Homo sapiens: one gene and its partner. The protein of the gene in region 2 purifies or fractionates together with the protein of the main gene of each other region. This does not show direct contact. Each region holds a gene or a part of one and is shown on either strand. Other genes may lie near its edges. The genes, in order: TPP2 and ZNF75A.

What was found.
Region 1: the proteins of ZNF75A (region 2) and TPP2 purify together in Homo sapiens (affinity purification with mass spectrometry; one large-scale study listed by BioGRID and IntAct). This does not show direct contact.

The regions. Positions count from the first base shown.
Region 1 is NC_000013.11:102,641,878-102,645,696, reverse strand, and holds part of TPP2 (tripeptidyl-peptidase 2), read right to left. Parts: intron 2,476-3,819; coding exon 2,321-2,475; intron 1,141-2,320; coding exon 1,024-1,140; intron 789-1,023; coding exon 688-788; intron 1-687. UniProt on the Homo sapiens protein: Cytosolic tripeptidyl-peptidase that releases N-terminal tripeptides from polypeptides and is a component of the proteolytic cascade acting downstream of the 26S proteasome in the ubiquitin-proteasome pathway.
Region 2 is NC_000016.10:3,308,495-3,312,313, reverse strand, and holds part of ZNF75A (zinc finger protein 75A), read right to left. Parts: coding exon 3,478-3,819; exon of another isoform or gene 1,368-3,477; intron 666-1,367; exon of another isoform or gene 562-665; coding exon 366-561; intron 1-365. UniProt on the Homo sapiens protein: May be involved in transcriptional regulation.

The DNA of each region.
Region 1 (3,819 bases), on a different chromosome or scaffold from region 2:
AATTTTTTAGATTTAGGAAGAAAACATCAGGATGATATAAGTTGGATATATCTTCAAAAGCTGGATGTTTTAATTTTTATTGATAATTCTAGGAAGCAGTATATCTTTAGACATCACCGTGTCACTGACTATTGTCCCTAATTGGTTATTTTAATACACTTAAGACTAGGCTTCATGCCGATGAGTTAAGGTCAGATTAAACAAAAGAAACCAGGTATCTTTATAACACAGTGAGTATGTGAACACAGGTCAAGGTGCCCTGCTTTTGTAAGGGGAGCTGCTGAGGCACAAACAGCAGGCTACAGTACTTAAGTTTCTACCATTTAATAAACAGTTTCTAATGGTATTGCAGTTTCTAAAAATGACTGCATTAGGATTCACAAAATAATATCAGAGAGAATGTTAACTTGCTATTTTACAGCAAGAAATAAAAAGGTTAATGTCCACTGATCCTAACTAGTCATGACTGGGATCGGCTATCCACCATCCTTGACTTTGCTGGTCAGGTGGGACAGTGAAGCTAGAAGCTGATACTGGGGCTGCCTTGCAGAGATCTGCTGGCAAGGATAAAATTCTCACCTCTAGCATGCAGGTGGATTAAAAAAAAAAAAGGCCCTTTTTTAAGAGTGTAAGAGATCCCCCCAATCTATATTCAATATCTGTAGTTCCTAAAACATTGAATGATACCGCAGTGTTTGGACCCAGTTCTTCAAAGTTATGCAGGGAGCCAGATCTTCGTATTTCAAGGAGGACTGAACATCAAAGCGGTTGATTCCTTCCGATGCATGCTACAAAGGATTTCTCAAATTACTTTCTCAAACTTTACTAAAAATAAGCAATATTTTGTACCTAAAATAAATGTGTCCAATATAAAGTTTATAAGTACCCACACACAAAGCCTACTGCTATCTTCAGAACCACAGGTAATTTCCCCTCATTAAAGTTTAAATCTAACCAATGAAGTTACTCTCCAGTAACACAAGTAACTGACATTAAAAATCATGAAAATGTTGTGGAACTTACAATGTTTAACTGAGGAGCAGTACACACTATCCCATGGAAAGAAATGGTATAATCAATGTTGACATCACTGAGACTTGCCCACCAACGAGCAATGCAAAATTCAATTGCTTTTCCACCCTGCAAATAAAAGTAAATAAAATATATCTCTTTTCTTATTTTTCTCAAATTACAGAATATAAATACTAGCTGTTTCAGAGCAATTCTGTTTTCAAACTTTTCCTGTTTGTAGCAAGAAAACTCAAAAATTTTAACAGCTATGCTAAGTAAGAGTTAGACAAATCATTTGCAGAGATATGGTGTATTTAAATATACATAGTTATTTACTCATAACCCTATGCTTCTTGTCATAAAAGATCCTAGGCAGCTTCTGAAAGCACATATAATAAAGCAAATGTGATTTTATTATTTCGAAGTGAAATAAAAAATTAGGACCAAAAGAAAAATAATCAAGTATAACGACACAATAAAGATACTTCAACTTTGTAAGGCATACTCAATAGGCACAATTGAGTTTGGGCTCACAGCTACCTGGCAACCAAAACAAAATGACATTATGGTCATTTACATCTTTCTCCCTATTAAAAAATAAAGATAAGGAAAAGGAAAAAAAAACACCTGCTCTTAGCACTGAGTTTTAAAGTAAGTTTTCTAGTAATCAGTGATTTAAAAGTTTAAAAAGATGAAGCAACACTGATCCATGGAAGAACACAAATGAAAGTAACCAGAAACCAAGAGATACTGGGAAAATCCCAGAACCAACTGAAAACACAAAGGAGCGCATTGAAGGAAGAACATCAGTACTTTCACCTTCTATGGAAGAAAGACTAGTCATCATTTCCAACACCACAGATAAGAATGCAGTCTGCCATCATCTGAGATAACTTAGACATGAAGCAGTAGCAGTTTTCCTATAATGCAAATTAGCCTCATAGCTTAACAACACAGCATTAGTAAAATAAGTTAAGTGACAAGCAAACAGGTCTTAAAGAAATTAATCTATAGTACAACAAAGAATAATCTAAATCAGGGTCCTAACTACAAGGCACGAGAATCTACCAGACTAGTATGTTTCTTTGACTATGCTATTCAAGAATTACAGCCATAATTACCTCCAACTTGATTTCAAGTACCCTGATTAGATTTTCTATTTTTCTACTTCATTTTTTTGGCATTAAAAAAATATATAATCCCAACATGCTAAATACAAACTATAAAATCAAATGCAAATACTTAGTCTTAGCCCATACCAAAAAGGCAAATAAATTGTGTTAGGATTATAAACTATAATTAAACTTACTAGGACAGGAAAAGCTTCAGTCAGTGTTCCTTTCTCTGGAAGAGAACAAAACTTATAGAATTCATGGCTTCGATATGCTCTTTGCTTCACAAGCTGGACTGCATGTAGAACAAACTTTGCTGACACCTCAGAAGAACACGAACACACTGTCACTTCTAAAATAAGAAAGAAAGAAGCAAAGCTTTAAACTTATAAGACCTAAAATTGACATAAAGTGGCTTTAATAATGCCCACTTAGGGATAATTCCCATGTAGGGACATAATAGGGATCAAAAATAAAATGTACACTCAAATCTGCATATTTCCATAAAAACAAAGAATCAACAAAATATTAATAAAGGTAGAAGACTAGAAGATTTTCTATGGGAACGAAAGAAACTGGTATTAAAATGAACCACCACCATGAGGCTGCAAACACCTGGAAACAGCAAGCTGTCCATAGATGCATACACAATTACATTAATCGGGTACCTTTTAAAATCCCTCCTTGTTTTAGCTGAAAACCAGTCAATTCCAGATAAAGTAAGGAAGGTTATATTTTTGGAAACCTCTATTTGTTATCATGCCTCAATTCCTCATTGATAACTTTTCCTAATCTCTCTTCTTGGTCTACTTGTGTACTGTGTGCGTCTACAAAGCCTGGCACGACTACTTATGCTTAACTTTACTCTGAGCCAGCGCTGGAGGTAAGCCAAGATCACCGCAATGCCAGATTGGCAGCTTTTCTAAAGAACACCCAAGCTAATTCAAGGGAACTGAAGCAAGGCGCAATGCCGTGGCTCATAAAACCAGGTGTGCAGAGAGCTCTCAGAACCTAGTCAGTTGCTAAGAATACAAAATCTAGTGTTATGACAATATTTCTAATTATTTGAAATAAAACTAAGACTGTTAAATTCTCTTAACTACTTGCATTCTAGATCATTTGATAATTTTTATTTAAAAAAACAAATTATTTTCAATACCAACCTAAACCAATCATAAATCAGTGCCATTTATCACTAAACAAGTACCCAATTCAGTATTAATTAACCATAGATTTGTATTCTTTAATTTACCAGTGCACATTTTACCAGAGCCTGGAGCTCTACAAGTCCCAGGGGCCCTATGAGAATGGGACCCCAGGAATGCTGAACACAGCAACTCTGACTCCACCCTCTAGAAGTACTGTCAAGTGTGAGCGTAATCCCAACGAAGACAAGCTATGTACCAAGTACTATAAAATCCCTAATCCTTACAACAGACTAACGACTATATTTACAGTTGAAACAGAAGTCCAGAAAATTTAGAAACCTGCCCCCAGGTAACCATTAGCGTATGGCAGAGTGTGGATCCAAACCCAGACTTCTCAATTTCCAAAGCCCGTGGCCTTGCCGCTACTCTGTGCTGCCTCCCTCTAATCCAGTTCTCTTAACTGCAATATCTTGGACTAGATGCTCTCAAGGCCTCTGGAAGCAGGGTCCTTGTCTAAGTAGCTCACCACCTTAGCCCACTGAAAAGGG
Region 2 (3,819 bases):
ACTGTTTTCACATTCTGCCACTAACAGCCCATCTGATCTCAATTCCTTCTGTATTTTACAAGGATGAAGTGGCCCCAAGCCTTCCCACTCCATTTCTTTCCTTCCTCTCCACTAGTCTAAGGAACAGAGTTCACACTGTTATTACCAAGAGTTCTGTGGTTTAGATATTTCTGTTCTCTAGGCCTACTCCCACTTTCATCCACAGTTGGCATTTCTACTGCTGCCTGGAAGGACATCATAGTTGCTATCAAGGCTGGTTTTACAAATCCACAGAGCAGGGTATTCAAAAAATGCCCATGACATTTTGGGTGAATAAACTATTATCACAGCTCCCAGGAGAAGAAAATTATCATGAAGCTCCTTACCCCTCTCATACACAGGCTCAGTCTCTTTATGAGTATTCCTGCTGAGCTGTTCTTGCAGACCCTCGTATGTATTCCAAAATTCTTCATCTTGGGATACGCCCACTGGTTGGGACTCTGTTGGCTTCAGCCCGAAACTTGAGGCCTCTGCTGTTTCTCCCAAGAGCACTGCCTCCTTTCCCAGCTCATGGACTGCAACCTAGAAATAATTCCCATCCTTGTTACCACAGAACTTACTTTTGGTTTGTGGGGGTGGAGGCAGAGCGACAGGTGTACAGCCCACATTGTGGGTAGTATAAGACACTAAAAAAAATGACAAAAAAAGGCTTAAAGAGATACTGGGCCACCAATGCTCCACAAATGACTATACACAAATATGAGAAAACTAGGGTGAAAGGAAACAAACTGTGGTGCCTGCCAGCCCTTTAACACAGCAGCTTCTACTCCTCTGTATACGGTCTAGGTCAGGCCACTGGCAGGGTTGGGCAGCCCACTCATTTTTTTTTTTTTTTTTGAGATGAGTTTTGCTCTTGTTGCCCAGGCTGGGGTGCAAAGGCATAATCTCGGCTCACTGCTACCTCTGCCTCCTGGGTTCAAGTGATTCTCCTGCCTCAGCCTTCCAAGTAGCTGGGATTACAGGTATGCACCACCACGCCTGGCTAATTTTTGCATTTTTAGTAGAGACGGGGTTTCTTCATGTTGGTCAAGCTGGTCTCAAACTCCCAAACTCAGGTAATCTGCCCACCTCAGCCTCCCAAAGTGCTGGGATTATAGGTGTGAGCCATTGTGCCCAGCCAGGCAGGCCACTCATTCTAATACTGTCTTGTCAGGCCTTTTCTGTTGACTTCAATCCCACAGTTGTGGTTTTCTGTCTTCTAGTTTTCTCTAAAATTCAAATAAATGAATTTAAAAGTTTTCCTGTCAGCCTGATTATCCCTATAGCCAGCGAAGGTTTTCAGAGAATGGGGATAGAATGGAGAAAAAAGGGGAGTGGCTCCAACCTACCTCCAGATGATTCTGACACCAAACATAGGTCCTGCCCTGTATTCTTCCCAGCAGACCCGAGGTCAGCAGATGTGTCGCCACCCACCAAGTTCATACCCTGGCTCCCAACTTGTCAGCAGAGCCAAGGAACAAGCATTAAGGGAAGGCAGTAGAGACTTTCATCTACTATAGGGAGGACATTACCCATCAGTGCATTTCCTGTCCTTGGCTATTCTGTTGGGATTTTTCTTTTTTCCAAATCTTTGTTTCCCTTTTTTCTATGTTTTCTTTTCTTGTGCAGTCTTCCCCTAGTTGTTTTTTTTGTTTGTTTGTTTTGTTTTGAGACGGGGGTCTCACTCTGTCACCCAGGCTGGGGTACAGTGGTACAATCATGGCTCACTGCAGTCTCATCCTCCCCAGGCTCAGGTGATCCTCCCACCTCAGCCTCCCGAGTGGCTGGGACTACAGGCACACGCCACCATGCCCAGCTGATTTTTGTATTTTTTGTAGAGACTGAGCTTCACCATGTTGCCCAGGCTGGATTTTTCCTAATTTTTAAAAACATTTTTTTTTTCACATGGAGTCTCGCTCAGTTGCCCTGGCTGGAGTGCAGTGGTGCAATCTCAGCTCACTGCAGCCTCTGCCTCCCGAGTTCAAGCCATTCTCCTGCCTCAGCCTTCTGAGTAGCTGGGATTACGGGCACACGCCACCATGCTCAGCTAGTTTATGTATTTTTAGTAGAGACAGGGTTTCAGCATGTTGGTCAGGCTGGTTTTGAACTCCTGACCTTGTGATCCGCCCGCCTCAGCCTCCCAAAGTGCTGAGATCACAGATGTGAGCCACCACGCCTGGCCTAAAACATTTTTTTTTTTAAGAGACAAGGTCTCACTCTGTTGCCCAGGCCAGAGTACAATGCTGCAATAATAACTCACTGTAGCCTCAAACTTCTGGGTCAAGCAATTCTCTCACCTCAACCTCTTGTGAAGCTGGGACTAGAGGCATGTGCCATCAGCCTGGCTTATTTTCTTTTTTTTTTTCATAGCAACAAGGTCACACTATGTTCCCCAGGCTGGTCTCAAGCAGTCCTCCCACCGCGACCCCCTAAAGTGTTCGAAATATAGGCATGAGCCACCGAACCTGGCCAATTTCTCCTTTTCTTTAAGTGTCCTTGTTTTCCTGTGTTCTCCTTGTGGATCTGCCTTTTTTTTTTTTTTTTGACAGGTTCTCACTCTGTCACCCAAGGGAGTGCAATGGTGCCATCTCAGCTCACTGCAACCTCCACCTCCTGGGCTCAGGTGATTCTCCTGACTCAGCCTCCCAAGTAACTGGGACCACAGGTGTGTGCCACCATGCCTGGCTAATTTTCATGTTTTTTGTAGAGACGGGGTTTCACCATGTTGCCCAGGCTGGGCTCAGGGGATCTGTCTGCCTTGGCCTCTCAAAGTGCTGGAATTACAGGTGTGAGTCACTGCACCCGGCCCGTTTTTTTTTTGTTTTTTTTGTTTTTTTTTTTTTTGTGAGATGGAGTCTTGCTGTGTTGCCCAGGCTGGAGTGCAATGGTGCGATCTCGGCTCACTGCAACCTCCCAGGTTCAAATGATTCTCCCTCCTCAGCCTCGAGGATAGCCGGGATTACAGGCACCGGTCATCATGCCCAGCTAATTTGTTTATTTTTGTAGAGAGAGGGTTCCACCATGCTGTCCAGGCTGGTCTTGAACTCCTGACCTCAGGTGATCTACCCGCCTCAGCCTCCTAAAGTGCTGAGATTACAGGTGTGAGCCACTGCATCCAGCCTCCCTGACTCTTTATTACCTTTTATTCTGTTTCTAAGTACTTAAGTCCTGTCTCCTTGGCCAAGCCAGACTAGGCCCAACACCCTCAATTCACCCTGGCTCCAAAGAGGGCAAAAGCAACTCTCTTTCTCTAAGGCCAGGGAAGTATCTACCACAATCTCTGAAACCTGTGAACTTTTCTGTGGGCCTGTAGTTTCAAGTCCCACCTTAACTGTCCTTAAAAAAAAAACCAAACAATGACCTACCTAATCCATCTAATTTCTCAACTAACTGCCACCATCTCTACTATATCCACCTGCATCCTATTTCACTGTACATGTCAGGAATCTTTCTTCTCACCCCATTCCATGTTTGACCAGATTCCCTCTGCAAGTGTTCTACCAGAGCCACAGCCTCCTCAATGCTCTGTGGATGGTGCTTCTGCATCTGGGTCTGTGTCTCCCTGGGCAGAATAGTCAGGAACTGCTCCAGCACCAGCAGTTCCAGTATCTGCTCTTTTGAGTGGATCTCTGGCTTCAGCCATAGATGACATAATTCTTGAAGTTTGCTGACAGCCTCACGGGGTCCACCTGCTTCATCATAGGTGAAATTCCGGAAGTGCCAGCAAGAGCTCTTAGGATCGAGACAGTCCATTTGAGGAGATTTTTTACTCTGACCGGAGCTCTCTCTTGCAGGCCCCTT